Regions from separate parts of the Homo sapiens genome. Here region 2 is linked to region 1. Evidence: fine-mapped QTL for protein levels in blood plasma. Region 1 holds a variant in brackets. A gene starts in the other region. All regions are shown on their reverse strands.

Region 1 (8,341 bases):
ATTCTCAGGTAATGTTATTGAAAGTCTTTATGCAGTGCACCTCTAATGCTCAATCCTTCATCCACTGGCCTTTAGTTACTTTTGCATGTGTGTATAAGCTTCCTGATTGTATTTCAGCAGCCCTTATAAAATGACTGTAATTGTCATATGCCACTGTAAAAGTGAGGCACTTTTAAAACATTAAACTAGACATGTATCTCTACAGTCTTTATGTGCAATCTTTTTTTGTAAATATTGCAAGTTTTTGCTGCTGTTTTGAAATAATCAAAGACAAAACAGGTAATATAAAGTTACAATCTAAGGCTAAGGCAAATTTGTTTATACTATTAGTCATTTGGTTCATTCGAATGCCTGATAATAGAGTTGAGTGCAAGATTATTGGTAGTAAAAAGCAGGACTTTTCACTGGAGACTCTTTAAATGTCCAGGTACCCCTGGCAGTCTTTCCATGCTGTTTTTAGGGGGCAACTTATACCTCACTTGTAACTTGGAGACCTTATTGAAATACTTCAGGATCTTACTTCGAGTCTTTCAGCCCTTACTGTGAGTTTCTCTCATCAAAAGAAGTAATGTTTCTATAGGGTTTCACTAAAATAATACTAATTTGGCCTGGGCGCGGTGGCTCACGCCTGTAATCCCAGCAGTTTGGGAGGCTGAGGCGGGTGGATTGCCTGAGGTCAGGAGTTCGAGACCAGCCTGGCCAACATAGTGAAATCCCATCTCTACTAAAAATACAAAAAATTATCCAGGCGTGGTGGCGTGTGCCTGTAATCCCAGCTACTAGGGAGGCTGAGGGGGGAGAATTGCTTGAACCCGGGAGGCGGAGGTTGCAGTGAGCCGAGATCGCGCCATTGCACTCCAGCCTGGGCAACAAAAGCAACACTCCATCTCACAAAAAAAAAAAAAAAAAAGGATACTAATTTGGAAATACTAATTGTAAATTATTTTCTACAGCCCAAAACTAGTTACACTGTATTTCCTATGAACATTTTTTGTGGAATGCTTCAAGAGCTACAGTACTCAGACCCACTTATTTGATTTTATGTGAAGTCTTAGTTCTAATTAGTATAAAGCAAATAAAGATACTTTTTTCTCAGAAGAGAAAAATCAAGCAGAGTCATAATTACTTTGGCATATAGCACAATGAAAAGGAGTCATCATTTTAGGGGATATTTTTTGCTTCTGTAATGAAATAAGTGGAGTTAAATTTGTGCAGCAATATCCAATGGGCTATTTTTCTCTGGGCAGGTAGTAAGTTTTCAGTTTGTGATACCCAGTAAACAGTGAGTTGTGTCTGTTAAATGTCACTAGTACTTCTCATTATTTTTAGAAGTCACAAGCTGTAACTGACAAGTCAGAATACAGAGATAAGTTAGAACAACTCTGCTTTAGTATCAGCAAGTCTCCAGTTACCCTGCATTAATGAGTGTTTTATTAGACTATTTCTGGAGATTGGTTCAATTATAAGCAAGCAGAGCTATCAGAAAATGCCAGGTTAGCTGATCTGATTTCAGAGCCCATCTTTCCAAATCAAGCTTTCCTGTTTCCAAATATGATGAAAATGTTTGGCAATTTTGTCAATTAATTGTATTATTTATGTTAATTTATTGTCATATTTTTTAAAACTTTGTTCTTTATGTTTCTGTATTGTTTTTATTGGAAAGTCAGTAAAGAAAAGTAAATAGGGAATAGAGATGCTTACTTCTCAATAAGTTGACTTTGAAAGTGGTTTTTTTAATTAATATATTTCTATGTTCAGGGATTAGATTATATAGTGCCAGTGAGGTACCTGGGGATTAGGAAAGAAGAGGCAAGTTAGATGGGACTGACTCACTACCTACTGTGCTAACGAGGCACCAGGGAAGCATGTTATAATTTAGGGTATGTGGGCTATCATTTCATTAGATTACAGTTGCCAGGGTAAGCAGATCGTGGGGAAGAAAGAGGGTTTCTCCACCATCCATTCTGCTGAGGCTGCTTCAATTTTCTCTCTACACAGCCCTAATCTCTTAGACCCAGAACTTTTAAATTCCTAGAAGAAGAGGGGCCTAAATATATCTTACATACTTTTCCTTTCCCCTCTTCATTTAAATTGACTAAAATTAAATGTTCAACATCTTCATCTTATGTTTCATGTAGTGAACTGCTTAATGTTATCTGTCTTGATTTGGCTTTTGTTTTTTTCCCCTTAGAATTGCTACAAACTAGTGACCTTAAATCTAGGGGATATCTTTGGCAATTAGAAGACCTCAAAATGGTTTTGGGTCTTGAAATGGCTTGTAGAGTATCAGCAGGTTTTTTATTTTTTTATTTTTTTTATTTTTTTGAGACAGGGTCTCTCTCTCTATTGCCCAGGCTGAAGTGCAGTGGCGCGATCTTGGGTCAGCAAAGCCTCTGCCTCTCAGGTTCAAGCAATTCTCCCACCTCAGTCTCCCGAGTAGGTTTGGGATTACAGGCGCACCACCACGCTTGGCTAATTTTTGTATTTTTAGTAGAGACAGGGTTTCACCATGTTGGCCAGGCTGGTCCCGAACTCCTGACCTCGTGATCCACCTGCATCGGCCTCCCAAAGTGCTGAGATTACAGGCGTGAGCCACCGCGCCCGGCCCAGGTTTTGATTTTGTAAGCTGTCTCCATTAGTTGAGACAGTTGTCAGCCAAAAGCCTTAGCTCACGTTGTATTCTTTCTGCCTGGCAAGTCAAGAGACCCTGTTTCAAGATGATTCCACCCTCTTGTTCTTCTTCCAAAAAACACTAAAGCCTTCAGAACCACTTTTCAAAAATAGGAACATTTATCTTGCTGATCTTTCCTTCTTCTAATTCTTGATGAAGGAAAGGAAAAAAGTGCATCGCAATACTGAAATTTAATCACTAGTCTAAAAGTCTTTAACAGTCTTCACAAAGGCATTAAATACTTTTTTCTATTTTTAGTAATTGTATTTGAGTTGCTGAAACACTGAAAGCATTTAAACAGTTTCTTCATCCTTCATTTCCAAATATAAGACAATTTTTTATGAGAATATAGGCAGAGCTGAAGTGACCATTTGAGAAAAGTTTAACTGGTAATTTCTTTTTTTTTTTTTGGTCGGAGTCTCGCTCTGTCACCCAGGCTGGAGCGCAGTAGCACGATCTCGGCTCACTGCAAGCTCTGCCTTCTGGGTTCATACCATTCTCCTGCCTCAACCTCCCAATTAGCTGGGACTACAGGCGCTTGCCACCACGCCTGGCTAATTTTTTTTTGTATTTTTTTGTAGAAACGGGGTTTCACTGTGTTAGCCAGGACCATCTGGATCTCCTGATCTCGTGATCCACCCACTTCGGCCTCCCAAAGTGCTGGGATTACAGGCATGAGCCACCGTGCCCAGCTGATAATTTCTTTAAAATAGTCTATAGCAAATGTATTTTTTTTTTTTTTTGACAGAGTCTCACTCTGTTGCCAGGCTAGAGTGCAGTGGCGTGATCTCGGCTCACTGCAACCTCCGCCTCCTGGGTTCAAGCAATTCTCCTGCCTCAGCCTCCCGAGTAGCTGGAACTACAGGCGCCCGCCACTACGCCCAGCTAATTTTTGTATTTTTATTAGAGACGGGGTTTCACCATCTTGGCCAGGCTGGTCTCGAACTCCTGACCTCATGATCTGCCCATCTCAGCCTCCC[A/G]AGGTGCTGGGATTACAGGTGTGAGCCACTGCGCCCGGCCTAGCAAATGTATTCTTGGTTTTGTTTTCAGATATCATATGACCTCAAGTTCATTTTTTGTAGAAATTATTATAATGTTTCCAAAGTTTAAATTATCTTACGGTTATTTCAAGGTGTCAATAATATCACACTGTCCCAGAGTCAGCAGGTATTCTCACAGTGACTCATGAGGCCATTTTTAGTTTTCCCATTTGTATGATTGGACACTGCCTGGAATAGTGTCCTGGAATAAGTGTCAGGAATATCTTCCTTTTGTTCTGGAGTTCTCACTGCCATGAAGGGCAGTATTCATATTGGGAAATGGAGATAACGGAAGATCCAGAGAACACAAATTGGCTTTGAGTCATGTGATTAGGCTTCCTGAGAGGTTCAGTGTCACCCTGACTATCTCCTTAGAAGTGTGGATGTTGAACCAGAACAGTGCTCCAGAAGGAGTGCTCAGTTTCATAGAGCAATCTGTGTTTTTTAGAAAAAGAATCCTTTTGCTAATGTAGTGAATATTGGGGGCAAGTTGAAATTTTGCATTTCCTAACGTCTTTTATTTATGCCTAGATGATGGACCATTTGGATTGTGCAACAAATGAAGAAAACCCTGTGATATCTGGTGAACAGATTGTCCAGCAATAATATTATGTGGAACTGCTATAATGTGTCATTGATTTTCTACAAATAGACTTCGACTTTTTAAATTGACTTTTGAATTGACAATCTGAAAGAGTCTTCAATGATATGCTTGCAAAAATATATTTTTATGAGCTGGTACTGACAGTTACATCATAAATAACTAAAACGCTTTGCTTTTAATGTTAAAGTTGTGCCTTCACATTAAATAAAACATATGGTCTGTGTAGTTTCCGAGATGTACTATATACAGTATATTTTTCTAAAAAAAAATGCCTTGACCCACCCCTATACTTTTTTTTAACGAAATCTGTTTCTTTCAGCTCTGATGGTAGATACAAGTAGTTACTATTTCTGAATGGGTTTTACTGTAAAGAATTATGCAAATTGGCCAGGCGCGGTGGCTCACGCCTGTAATCCCAACACTTTGGGAGGCCAAGGCGGGCGGATCACGAGGTCAGGAGATCGAGACCATCCTGGCTAACACGGTGAAACCCCTCTCTACTAAAAATACCAAAAATTAGCTGGGCGTGGTGGAGGGTGCCTGTAGTCCCAGCTACTGGGAAGGCTGAGACAGGAGAATGGCGTGAACCCGGGAAGTGGAGCTTGCAGTGAGCCAAGATCACGCCACTGCACTCCAGCCTGGGCGACAGAGTGAGACTCCATCCCAAAAAAAAAGATTTATGCAAATTATATCTGCTCTGTAGAAATAACTGTTTAACACCATGCAAGAAGGCGGTTCAACGGTGAAAATTTGGACCTTATATCACTGCAGAGGTTAGAAATACATAATTTTGGAAATATAAGTGCATATTTTTGTAGTATTTTTTTAAACCCAATCCTTTCATAAACTTGAGAACTGAAATTACTTCAGACTGCACGTGTATTATATTAAGAACATTTTTCCAGATATAGAGAAACATAATATATAGAACTAGTCACTAAAAGGAGACAGACACTGAAATCTAGTTTTCATTGGTTTGACAGCCTTTTTTTTTTAAATGTAGCTTAAATTTCAGTACTAACATTCAGTTTCACTTTGGTATTTCTGATCTTTGCAATTTGGTTCTGTTAATGTTAAGGTTTGATTTTTTAAAAAAATTATTTTTCTTAAGAAATTATGTATTAATACATATGGCTCATCGTTGAATACAGCATTCCTAACATTATCCCACATTCCCCCACTCCCACCCGTTATCTTTTTTTCTTCCTGATGCCCACCCCTTTTCCCATAGGTAATGATTCTTAATCTTGGTGGAGGATGTACAAAGTGCGGTTCAGAGAAAAGAATTGGCAACAACAGCAAGAGACTTGGTGTTAGTCTCAGTTTAATTACAATACAAGGAAGAGTTGAGTAATTTGCCGCATCTCAAGACCTTGTATCTCAGTTTTCTTTTTTTTTTTTTTTTTTTTTTTGAGACGGAGTCTCGCTCTGTCGCCCAGGCTGGAGTGCAGTGGCGGGATCTCGGCTCACTGCAAGCTCCGCCTCCCGGGTTCACGCCATTCTCCTGCCTCAGCCTCCCAAGTAGCTAGGACTACAGGCGCCCGCCACTACGCCCGGCTATTTTTTGTAGTTTTAGTAGAGACGGGGTTTCACCGTTTTAGCCGGGATGGTCTCGATCTCCTGACCTCGTGATCCGCCCGCCTCGGCCTCCCAAAGTGCTGGGATTACAGGCGTGAGCCACCGCGCCCGGCCATATCTCAGTTTTCTAATCTGTAAAATGAGTAGGTTAGACCAGCTAATCACTCTGGTACCTTCCAACTTGAAAAAAGTTTTTTCCCCATTCTTTGGTAAATTTTAGATGTGGCCTGAACATTCTCCTGGAAGTCAGAGGTCAAATTATCTTTCCATTTTCTTTTATTTTAGTAAGAATTTCGCAAATGACAAGTGATAACAAAGGCAGCAGGATTTTTCATTTCTCTGTAAATAATGTATAAAATATGTGAACAGAACTATATCTTTCATCTAAGGCCAGTTCAATTTATTAAAAATAAAACTAATGCCTTTTAAAATTGATCAGACCTTTGATACTTGAACTAAATTTTGCATTAGAGACTTTTTAAAAATTGTTCGCTTTTGCTGAATAAATTGCAAATAGAGAAGCTTCATTGACAGTCAGTCCCTCTCTGCTTAATGCAGTTATGGGTCCTTTCGTTTATGGCAAATGACTTACCTGACAAGAGTTAATTTTGCCTCCATTGTATCAAGTTTGAATATTTTCCAAGAAATCTGATTTATTTGGCAGACTCTGAGAGAGAGAACAGATTAAGTGCCGTTTTAAAACTCTGTATTTTCATTTATAATAATAAAATATTTGCCAAAATACAGCTGTTTTGTAAAATTATCTGCACCCTCATCCAAGCTTTATATTTAATAGCCTTAATCACATTTTATGAAGAATGTTAAAGAAAATTTTTTTTTTACTACATCGAAATGAGATAATTAATTTCTTTTTTTTTTTTTTGGAAATGGAGTCTCCCTCTGTCACCCAGGCTGGAGTGCAGTAGCAAGATCTTGGCTCACTACAACCTCTGCCTCCTGGTTCAAGCAATTTTCCTGCCTCAGCCTCCCAAGTAGACGGGATTACAGGTGCGTGCCACCACACCTGGCTAATTTTTGTATTTTTAGTAGAGACGGGGTTTCACCTTGTTGGTCAGGCTGGTCTTGAGCTCCTGACCTCATGATCTGCCCGCCTCAGACTCCCCAAGTGCTGGGATTGCAGGCATGAGCCACCGCGCCTGGCAAAATAAGATAATTTCTCAAAATAATTTGGTTTCATATAACTGGAGTAGTAATTAATATTTTAACTTCATCAACTAGATGTATCTCCTCAGTAGCATAGTAACTGGTACATCCAGAAATCTGAAATCCGAGTTACTTGATACAAATTCTACTTTATCTAACCATTAGTTATTAAGGAGGTAAAATCTTGTTCTAATTTGCTATTAAAATCTTATTGGTTAAATAGAAATAAGAAAAAGTATAATTAAGTTTCTTCATCCTCAATGTCAACTTTATATTGTAATTAAATGTGTAGCAACCAAGCTGACAATAGTGATTAAGAAATTAAAGTACAGAAATATTTTATTTGGGGACTCAAAATGAACAAAAGATAGATAAGATTAAAATTTCACTTAAAAAGCTGCCATCTCTTCCTCTCTTGCCCTCCCACCACCAATAACTTTAAGGGGAAGAGAAGCTGGTTTTTTCCCTAAACATGTCTTTAAAATAATGATACACTGTATTTATTAATTCTTGATGCAAAAAAAAAAAAGTTAGAAAATCCCTTTGAACATTTTTGTGGCTTATCAACAGAAATCACTATCTCAAATTGTAATGTAGATTACTTTTGTCTCAGTTTAGTTTAGCAAAAATAAATGTGAGGCTTGTGGGGAAAGACCTTGATATTCTAATACATTATATTTTCTTCTAGCTTGTAGATTTTTTTTTTTTTTTTTTTTTGAGACAGAGTTTCGCTCTTTTTGCCCAGGCTGGAGTGCAATGGCATGATATCAGCTCACTGCAATCTCCGACTCCCGGGTTCAAGCAATTCTCCTGACTCAGCCTCCTGAGTAGCTGGGATTATAGGCATGTGCCACCACACCCGGCTAATATAGTATTTTTAGTAGAGACGGGGTTTCTCCATGTTGATCAGGCTGGTCTCGAACTCCCAACCTGAGGTGATCCGCCCGCCTCAGCCTCCTAAAGTGCTGGGATTACAGGCATGAGCCACCGTGCCTGGCACTTGTAGATTTTTTTTTAGATTAGCAATTCCTTAGTAGAATCTGCAATTTATTTCTCTTTTAAAGAGAATTTTAACCCATCTGCTATTGGCATTCTTATATTTTACTTGTCCATAGAGATTTTAGTGAATTGATACATTTATAATAAATACAAATGAGCTTTCCAGTTTTCTTTGCTCTTTCAATTTATGCTTTAGTATAAGCAAAAATTACTATTTTTACATTTTTAAAAATTGTGGGTACATGTAGGTGTATATATTTATGGAGTGCATGAGATGTTTTGATA
Region 2 (8,341 bases), not on the chromosome of region 1:
TTGATGATACTTCTTCAGTCTCTTCATTGTCATGTGAGAATCCTTTTCCTCCTTTACAATCAGCTTAATGGAGTTTCCAAAGGCAAAGAGATCAGTGTATATGTTCAGTATGGCATCTTAAACTGGAAATCTCTCCATCTGTTTTATAAAGAATTGGGGATATAACTCAAGGCATTTATCTGCTGCCCTTAATTATTGCCATAATTTGAGGTGAATTAAGTTCCCAGATGAACATCCCAAAGGATATCTTAGCCTCTCACTGCTTTGCCAACTATATCTCTAAGGACCTTCACTTCTTTCTTCTATCTCAGCTACTTACTTCTGTGACCATACCTTAGGCCTCGTTGTAACTTGAACTGAAATCTTAAATACAACCTGCTGCTATCTGGTAAAAACCTCTTTTATTTCCCACCTTATTACTAGTTACTACTAGGACTCATACTTTGAACTCATCAAAATGTCCAGTTTTTTAGCCCATGTATTTTTTCCTTCCATCTTCAACTCCTCCTAGTTCCAGCTGGATCACACATGCCAATCACTGTGCCAATATATACCCTCCTCTGAGAGCCCTAAACATAGGTTAAATTGTGTTATAATGTAAGACTATCTGGGTTTATCCCATCCCTACCACTCAAAAGTTATGGGACTTTGGGGAAGTTATTTAGATTTTGTGTGCATCCATGTCCTCATCTGTAAAATGAGGATAATAATAGTACGAATGTTCTGGGGATAAAAGGAGATAGCACGTGCAAGTGCTGAGAAAAAAACGTCATGATCAATAAGAGTATTCAATAGACATGAACTAGTAGTAGTAATATTCTCTAATCTAAAAATGCTAGTGAAAAAACAATATGTGTTAACAAGTTATGTTAGTCTATAGGTGCTTACACATTCTATTTATACTATTTAAACAGTCTTCTTGTTGGTTAACCACTTCTAAAAAGATGTAGTATTTCCCTATTTAAATGACAATGAAGCACTGATTTATCTTCTGAGTCTTTGTGTCCTCAGCACTCAAAGAAATGGGTTGTGTCTCTGTTCTGTTTCTTTTCTAACCCCATTTTGATAGTTAACCCTTTGGGTCTCCAAGGAGCACTTGCCCTAATTATGATAGGATAATGAAACACTGACATCTAATTATAACATTTATGAAGGTAGTAGATGCCAATTACAAACTAGGAGGCATGTGGCTTTATATTCTTCCTTATGTAACAATTGTGGTTTTAGAAAAGAGATCAGATTCAAAAAATAGTTTGAGCTATATCATTTCCCACTGATGCTATATTATGCCACTTCTTCCAGATCTATAACTATGTGATAGTTATTTTGAGCTTTGAAGACCTCAGGACTCTTTCTAGCTTGGAACTCAAAAATCTCTTTGACGATGGGTATTTTGTTGAATCCTTTCATTTAAGCAAGTCCCTGGAGGAAGAGCTTTTAACCCAGGCACTATATAAATAATCATCGGATTAATAGACCCCGATTAAAAAAAAACTGTAAACAAATTAATATTTTGAACACAGTCCTTGTAGAGTGAAATTGTGTTCTTTTGAGATATGTGTAACAAAGTACTTTGAGGATGTGAACATCATTAATATTTTAGCCTTAATTATTTTACCCTCACAACCTTAAGTGTCCCCCAACAGCAAATCAGTGAAATGTCAATTATAATTTTAAAAAAAATTTATCACTTTGGAATAAAACTTTAGGAAGTATCACAAAGAAGCAATGTAAGGTGGTAACACTGGGTCCTGTTAAAATCTTGGGCAAGTTATCCAGTTTTTCTAGGCTGTTTCCTAATCATCAAAATGAGTTTTGGTATGGATCAGATGAAATAATGCATTAAAATCACTTTGTAGATAACAGTAAACAATAAATGTTTATTGAATCTGAGGAATCAAATGGGTAGGATGTTAGGAGCTGTTAGGCTCTCTAGAAGCAAATTTTTACTTTAAAGAGTATAAAATCAGGCTTATGTTTACTGCACTTGTATCCTTATTCCCCTTGTAACTTGTCCTTAAATAATTTGTCATGGCTTTTGGTTAATAAACACATCTCTCTTTCATCTCCCCACCATAAAATAAAAAGATAACATCCTTATGCTCTCAGCATGGTCTTACCTTCAGACTCTAGAAATACATAGCTGGATGTGTTTTCTGGGAAAACATATAAATTAAAATCATTTTTGGCAGGTAAACATTGGCTACTAATAAATAGTTCTAGTAAGCTCTCCTCCTTATAACCTAAGGATTTATGTTATAGCTCACTTATCCAGTGGGCTTACCAGAATGCAGTCATATTCCAAAGTCAGCCTTACAAGGTCCCTCTCTGGAAAGAACTCAGTTGATGAGCCTCTACTCTCCTAATTGCTGCCCTTACATTTTTACATGACAAATCATCATCCTTTCTGGTTTTGCAGCATTTTAATAGACCCAGAGTTGCTTTCTGAGAAAAGTCTCAGTACTAACAAAGGTTAGAACTAACAAAGGTTGAACTAAGGATGACATGCATGTGGTATGTGCCCTTTCCAGTCCTCTTCCCAGGTCCATGAAGAAATCACCAACCAGTGAGAACACTCTTTCTACAGAACACAAACTCAGCTTCAGGCTATTTCTGAACAAGAGCTTTAGGAAGCAAAAGGAAACAAGTATGTAAGAACATTAAGAACATACCTGCCATACTTATACTAGAATGTAAGTTCCTTAAGGGCACAGACTGTGTCTGATTCATTTTTGTTTTCTCAACAAAAATGTTGATGGGGTGTTAACTAATTGTATAAAGTAGGAATAAGAGTCAGTTTCGTAAATGTTTTTTAAAAGTTGACAAAAGTATTTTCATTTTGATTCCAAAATTAAAAAAAGCTAATAAAGATATTACAATATTTTAAAAATCCAAATTTTATGAGAGTTCTTGTCTGGATGAAAATTAGAATACATTCACATTATCTCAAACGAATGAACATGTGTGACTTTATAAAAACAATACCTCCCTAAACCATGAATTCAGATGGAAAAACTCGACATCTTTATTTCTGCAGTCAGTCTCATTTTTCTTAAAACAGTTCAAACTAGTAAGAATTTTCCAGAAGTTACAGCTTGACTCACCCAACCTTCCAAGGAAAAAACAAAAAAACTTAAACAGACATTGTTTCACTCTCATCATTTCCCACCCTTACTAATAGTGGCAACTTAAGTGTATCTTAAAGCACTCCAACCTCTTCATAGAGCCTATTAAATGAGTATCTTGTGGACACCCACACACAGTCATAGAATCCTAAGTGGTGCTCAGACCAGTCACATGTCAGTGCATTCTTAATTGCTAGAGCTAACATGCTCTCAGCATGGTCTTTTAATTACACCCTAATAATTTATTATAGTTTCTCTCTACAATGTAAAGTCTTGGAAATCACCCACTAAAAAGTGCCTGTGTACTCTGGGGCTTTGGCAGGCTAGGGCAGAACTTCTGAGAACACGGTGTGTTCCAGAGAAGACAATCAATCTGAGAGGACTTACACAGAAACAGTTCATTCAGGACCTGGCTGCTGGCTTTTATCTGAGATCTGAGGATTTCACAATCACTTGGAGATACCTACAAGTGTATAGCACACCTTGGATATTACTCTTAATGATTACTTCATTTTGTAAAGAGGTGACTCCACCAACAGCAAAGGAGAGGGCCCAGCCCCAGCCACCAGGAATACAGTTCTCTGCCAGTAAGTGCCTAATGACTCATTTTCCTCAACAGAATTTTCATAAGGCTGGAATTCAGGGAGGGATGTCTGGAGAATGTCTGAAAGGAAGTTCACAAGCCACTGTCCTGCTCTTTGCTGGAGAAAGTGTCCCGTGGTAGCCAGAGAAGTTGACTAAGGCAAACAGCAACATGTTTTGGTAACATTTCCCCATTACCTTTCATGTACAATCCAAGAAAGGTTGCCATGAAGTGTTTTAATCAGGTTGGGAACATTATAAACTTCGAAAAAAGAAAACCATTAGTGGAAAAATTAAGGACACAGTAGATTTAACAACTGTGTTTACGTGGAACCACAAAATCTATCCAAGTGAATTGCATTAAAACAGACAGAACACTCCAAGAAACTGTTGTATGTGTATTTTTTTTAATTCAGTCAACCATTTTACTAATCTGTCAAGATGACCAATTTCTTTGGAATTATGTAGATTTAGCCAAAATGAAATTATACATAAGATTTACTTTTCTTTTCAGATGCTTTTTTATTTATTTTTAAATCTTTATAATTACTAGATGTTCTCCTCTCTCAGAAGATATTCTGAGAGGAAAGCAAAAATACCACTCTTGTAAAGCCATTTCCATTCTTCCAAAGGTCTGCTGGTAAATTATTCTTACTGATCTTTCCATCTTTCTAGCCTGTGCATACACACCTAACCCATACTAAATTTCACCAGATGGCATTTTATTTCTTTAAAGTAAAGCAGCCGTGGGTTTAGACAGTTGAATTTTTAAACTTCTGTATTTACTGAAAGTGCATATGGTGCTATATGGACAAAGAAATTGTGCTGAAAGAAAAACATTTCTGTCTGCAATACCTCATAATCTTCCAGAGGAAAAAAAAGTGCAGTTATATGGCACATTTCTCACAAAATCTTATGTGGCTTCAATGTTCTTCCTCTGTTAAAAAGTAGATATATGTTTAATGTACAGACCTGCAAGTTTCATTATTTTAAATTCATCTTTTAGTGGCAAATAAAAATGTTATGCAAAACCCAATGACTTGCTAAAGTGATCCTTCAGTGAATTCTAGAAGAAAATGCAACATAAACCTGAACTGGTAAAAAAGAAAAAATAAAAACCTCTGTATGTCAACGTAAGCAGATGTTGGTGTAGTTACAAGGATGAGAAGGCTATAAAACTTCCCTTGAGTCACTCACAGTTCATTTGAGGGCCAAGAACGCCCCCAAAATCTGTTTCTAATTTTACAGAAATCTTTTGAAACTTGGCACGGTATTCAAAAGTCCGTGGAAAGAAAAAAACCTTGTCCTGGCTTCAGCTTCCAACTACAAAGACAGACTTGGTCCTTTTCAACGGTTTTCACAGATCCAGTGACCCACGCTCTGAAGACAGAATTAGCTAACTTTCAAAAACATCTGGAAAAATGAAGGTTAGTATAAGCAACCTCAAGTATTCTTAAAAAATTAGGGTTGGCTGGATTGAACGTGATCAGAGTTTTCTATTGTTTAGAAGGTGAAGATTTGTACATAAGTATTTACTTCCTCAATGGGTTGGGATTGGAAAATTGTTCTAAATATACTGTAGAAACATTTGTCCTTGCAGAGCTGGAAGAATTCCAGCAATTATAGCCGGATCAGTGGAAAACAATCAAAAGCTTTGTGGGGCGAGAGAAAAAGGATTTAGGTGTAAACAAAATCTTGCCATTTCTACTATTTAGCAGGAACTGTGTGTATGCCTAATTCTCTTTATTTTATGTAGACTTGGGTAAAAATCGTATTTGGAGTTGCCACCTCTGCTGTGCTTGCCTTATTGGTGATGTGCATTGTCTTACGCCCTTCAAGAGGTAAGAACTTTCTCTGATTTGCTCTATCTGCCTAGAATAGCTTGGAAAATGTACTAATGCAAGATCACAAGTGGTTGAACATTTCCTAAGTGCTTATGTTCCAAAGTAAGTCTGTTATTTCTAAGAAGACATATAAGCTCACAGATATGTTGTTGTGCAAGACCAGAAATACTGAGGAATTTAAGGCATGGGTAGGAAGAGATTTACAGTGTTATTTCAGCAATAGAAAAACCTAAGAACTATGCTGCATCACCCCCACAACCCCCAAAAATATATGCTAAATACAAGCTTTGACAGGCCTTTAGAAACAACATTTTTAACTAACATTGCTTTTCATTATTAGGTTTGTCTCGTGGAAAGTAAAAATGAGTAAGAATGGAAAAGTTAAAACAGAATCTATGGACTTTTTTTATTACTAAATAGTCTTTCCAAAAATTTAGGGAGGAAGTTGAGAATACAGATCTCAGGAATAGCTGTATAGAAAAAGCAAAGTTGTTGTTTTAGATGTAGTAGCACTGCACATCAAATTAGAAAACCAAACATTGTTAAGCAAGCATTTTGATCAGTCATAAATTGGATCCTTTTACAAAAAAGGCTTAGATTGACACTGATCTCACTTTGCTAAAAATTGGAAGGTACTATGGGCTGATATCAGAGCTAGTTTAAATATAAAGTAGGACTATGTTGATAGATAATCTAGTGATATTAGGGAAATAGCTTTTTATGAAAATATTTATGAAGAGAAACTCAAGCTTCTGAAATGGAAAAAAAATCCAGTAATAACAGGTCTTATGTCTTTGTGTCTAGGAAAGGGGAAAAATTTGTACTAATAAATACTAAAAGTTTATGATAACAAATGTGGGAAATATCTTGGTTAAAAGTTAACTGATAGTAAATGAAGATCAATAAAATAACTTCAGCTAAAGAATGTATGAGTCCTGAATGACTGGACTGTTGCTATTAAAAAGAACATAGAAAAATGTTTTCGAAAATTAAAAATAATCATGAGATTTTCACAGAATTACAAAATAGAATAGGTTAACCCATAAGATGAAGTCAGCTGATATCTTCAGTGTTAATTTCAGTCTTTGTTTCTGCTCTCTGCCAGCACAAGATTCTTCTTAGGCTGTTGAGAGGTATGTAGTGTGTGTACATATCTTTCATAAATTTTCATGTTAAAATTGTTTTCAGACTCATCTCTGAACTCAGTGGTCTTGGGGCCACATTTCCCTCATACCAGCAATTGTCAGGTAGTGGATTAGGTCATATAGATCCTTTGAATGTTAATTCATTAAAAATTAGCTCCTGATTTTTAAAGAAACTCAACCTTGAAATTGATACTCTGCACCCTCAGAAATAAATGTTCTTGGAACAAAAGTTTGTTAATTTTATAGGGCACTTGCCTCCATGTCCATAGGGAAGGATGAATTTCACTATGGAATTCAAGCTATAATTTCTAATAAGAAATGCATTATATTTACATATTTACAAATGATGTATAGAGATACACATACACAGATATTTGTGTGATCACATATAATCTCAATCCCTACCCTCTTTCCAAGTTTAGTTATGTATAGCTTACATATAAATATACGTCGTAAACTATATATAGTATAAAAGTCCTATGTAATTTATAATACAATTCTATTTTCAACTAACAGGAAAATTCTAAGAATAAAGTGATTTCTTGATAGGGTGAAATAATCAAATTAAACTCAAGTACTCAGTGAAATTTGAGTACTCATTCAGAAATAGAAAAATCATAAATAAGGTGAGAACTGTTGTTTTTTGGTTCATTATATCATTCTCTTTCTCTTCTAAATTTGCTGAATAACTTCTCAGAATGTCAGCTAAACAGCTTGTGAATGGCACTAGTCATTACCCTACTTTCCTGAGCAGGACCCGGGGAAGTCAGTGCCACAGGCAGCCCTGAAGTTAGGCGTGGTGGCCTCCTAATTTTCCTCCTTTCTTCTCACATCTCACTGGTCAATCAATCATCTCCCGTCTGGAGTGCCAGGTCCAGTCCTCACTCTCACATCTGCCCAGTGCCTATGAGAATAGGATCTGAGATGGCAAGGCAGGAAAGGGAAGGAGGAAGGGGTAAAAAGAACAGAGAATTCAAAGCTAAGCGAGCTCCTACTTAGCCTCTTTCTCACATTCATCAGAAATCCCATTACTTCACATTTGCCTTAGGTGCCCTCATATCCTCAGCCCAGAATTTTATGCACCAGTGTATGAACTGTCTTCTTCTGAGAAACTTAAAGCCACACTCAGGAAACATTCATTCATTCATTTACATATTAGTGTATTAGTTCTACTAACTCCCTGCTCATCATCATGCCAGTTGCTGAGGATATGGAGGTGCAGCAGTCTAGAATTCCCTCTGCAAGTTGGGGAGTAAGAATCCAGTGCTTTCTGCACCCAAAGATGCATGGTCAGCACCACAGATACCAGAGAAGGATTTGTGTTATTTCACATCACGTCTAAAGGAAAGAAAAAAGAGAAAGGCTCTTCCATCCCAGGAGAACCAGCTTCAGGATTAAAAGGGTTTAGGAATAATTAAACTGGATTATAAGAACAAATATGAAATGTAGTAGTGAAATGAGAAAATCCATTTAGCTCACTTACAAAATATTAACTATAAGGAAAAACTTTTTTCGAAACTTGTAAAATATTCCCTTTTTAGTTTTGCCAAAGTGTGAAGCACACATGAATTTCTACCCCTTACTCCCAGGTTGTCCTTGCCTTCAGCTTACACCCCTTCAACTGACTCCTTTCCTCTCTCCTACC

Which allele goes with the higher level. Positions count from the first base shown, and alleles are read on the strand shown. Strength reflects both the effect of a copy and how common the allele is.
In carriers of allele A in region 1, the plasma level of the protein whose gene starts at base 5,011 in region 2 tends to be lower than with G alone (weak association).

The links. A credible set is the group of variants that fine-mapping cannot tell apart. PIP is the posterior inclusion probability: the model's chance that the variant is causal. Protein levels are from antibody-based Olink assays in UK Biobank. Linkage for the fine-mapping came from a reference panel and not from the study's own genotypes, which makes the PIPs less certain.
Region 2: FAP starts here. The variant in region 1 is the best candidate, but not a certain one, in a credible set for the plasma level of the FAP protein (UK Biobank, PIP 0.78).

The regions. Positions count from the first base shown.
Region 1 is chr15:50,703,776-50,712,116 of GRCh38, reverse strand. It overlaps SPPL2A (signal peptide peptidase like 2A), which reads left to right. Exons shown (of 15, transcript NM_032802.4): 15 at 4,243-8,341. The coding sequence ends at 4,317. Among named protein-coding and RNA genes, the nearest start is that of TRPM7, 21 kb to the right of the region's middle. RefSeq lists a silencer at 1,238-1,438. The variant A/G (reference allele first, on the strand shown) is at 3,652.
Region 2 is chr2:162,240,115-162,248,455 of GRCh38, reverse strand. FAP (fibroblast activation protein alpha) reads left to right here and starts at 5,011. Exons shown (of 26, transcript NM_004460.5): 1 at 5,011-5,134; 2 at 5,464-5,548. The coding sequence starts at 5,129. LOC105373724 (a long non-coding RNA gene) reads right to left here and starts at 2,339. Exons shown (of 4, transcript XR_923544.3): 1 at 2,285-2,339; 2 at 1-138.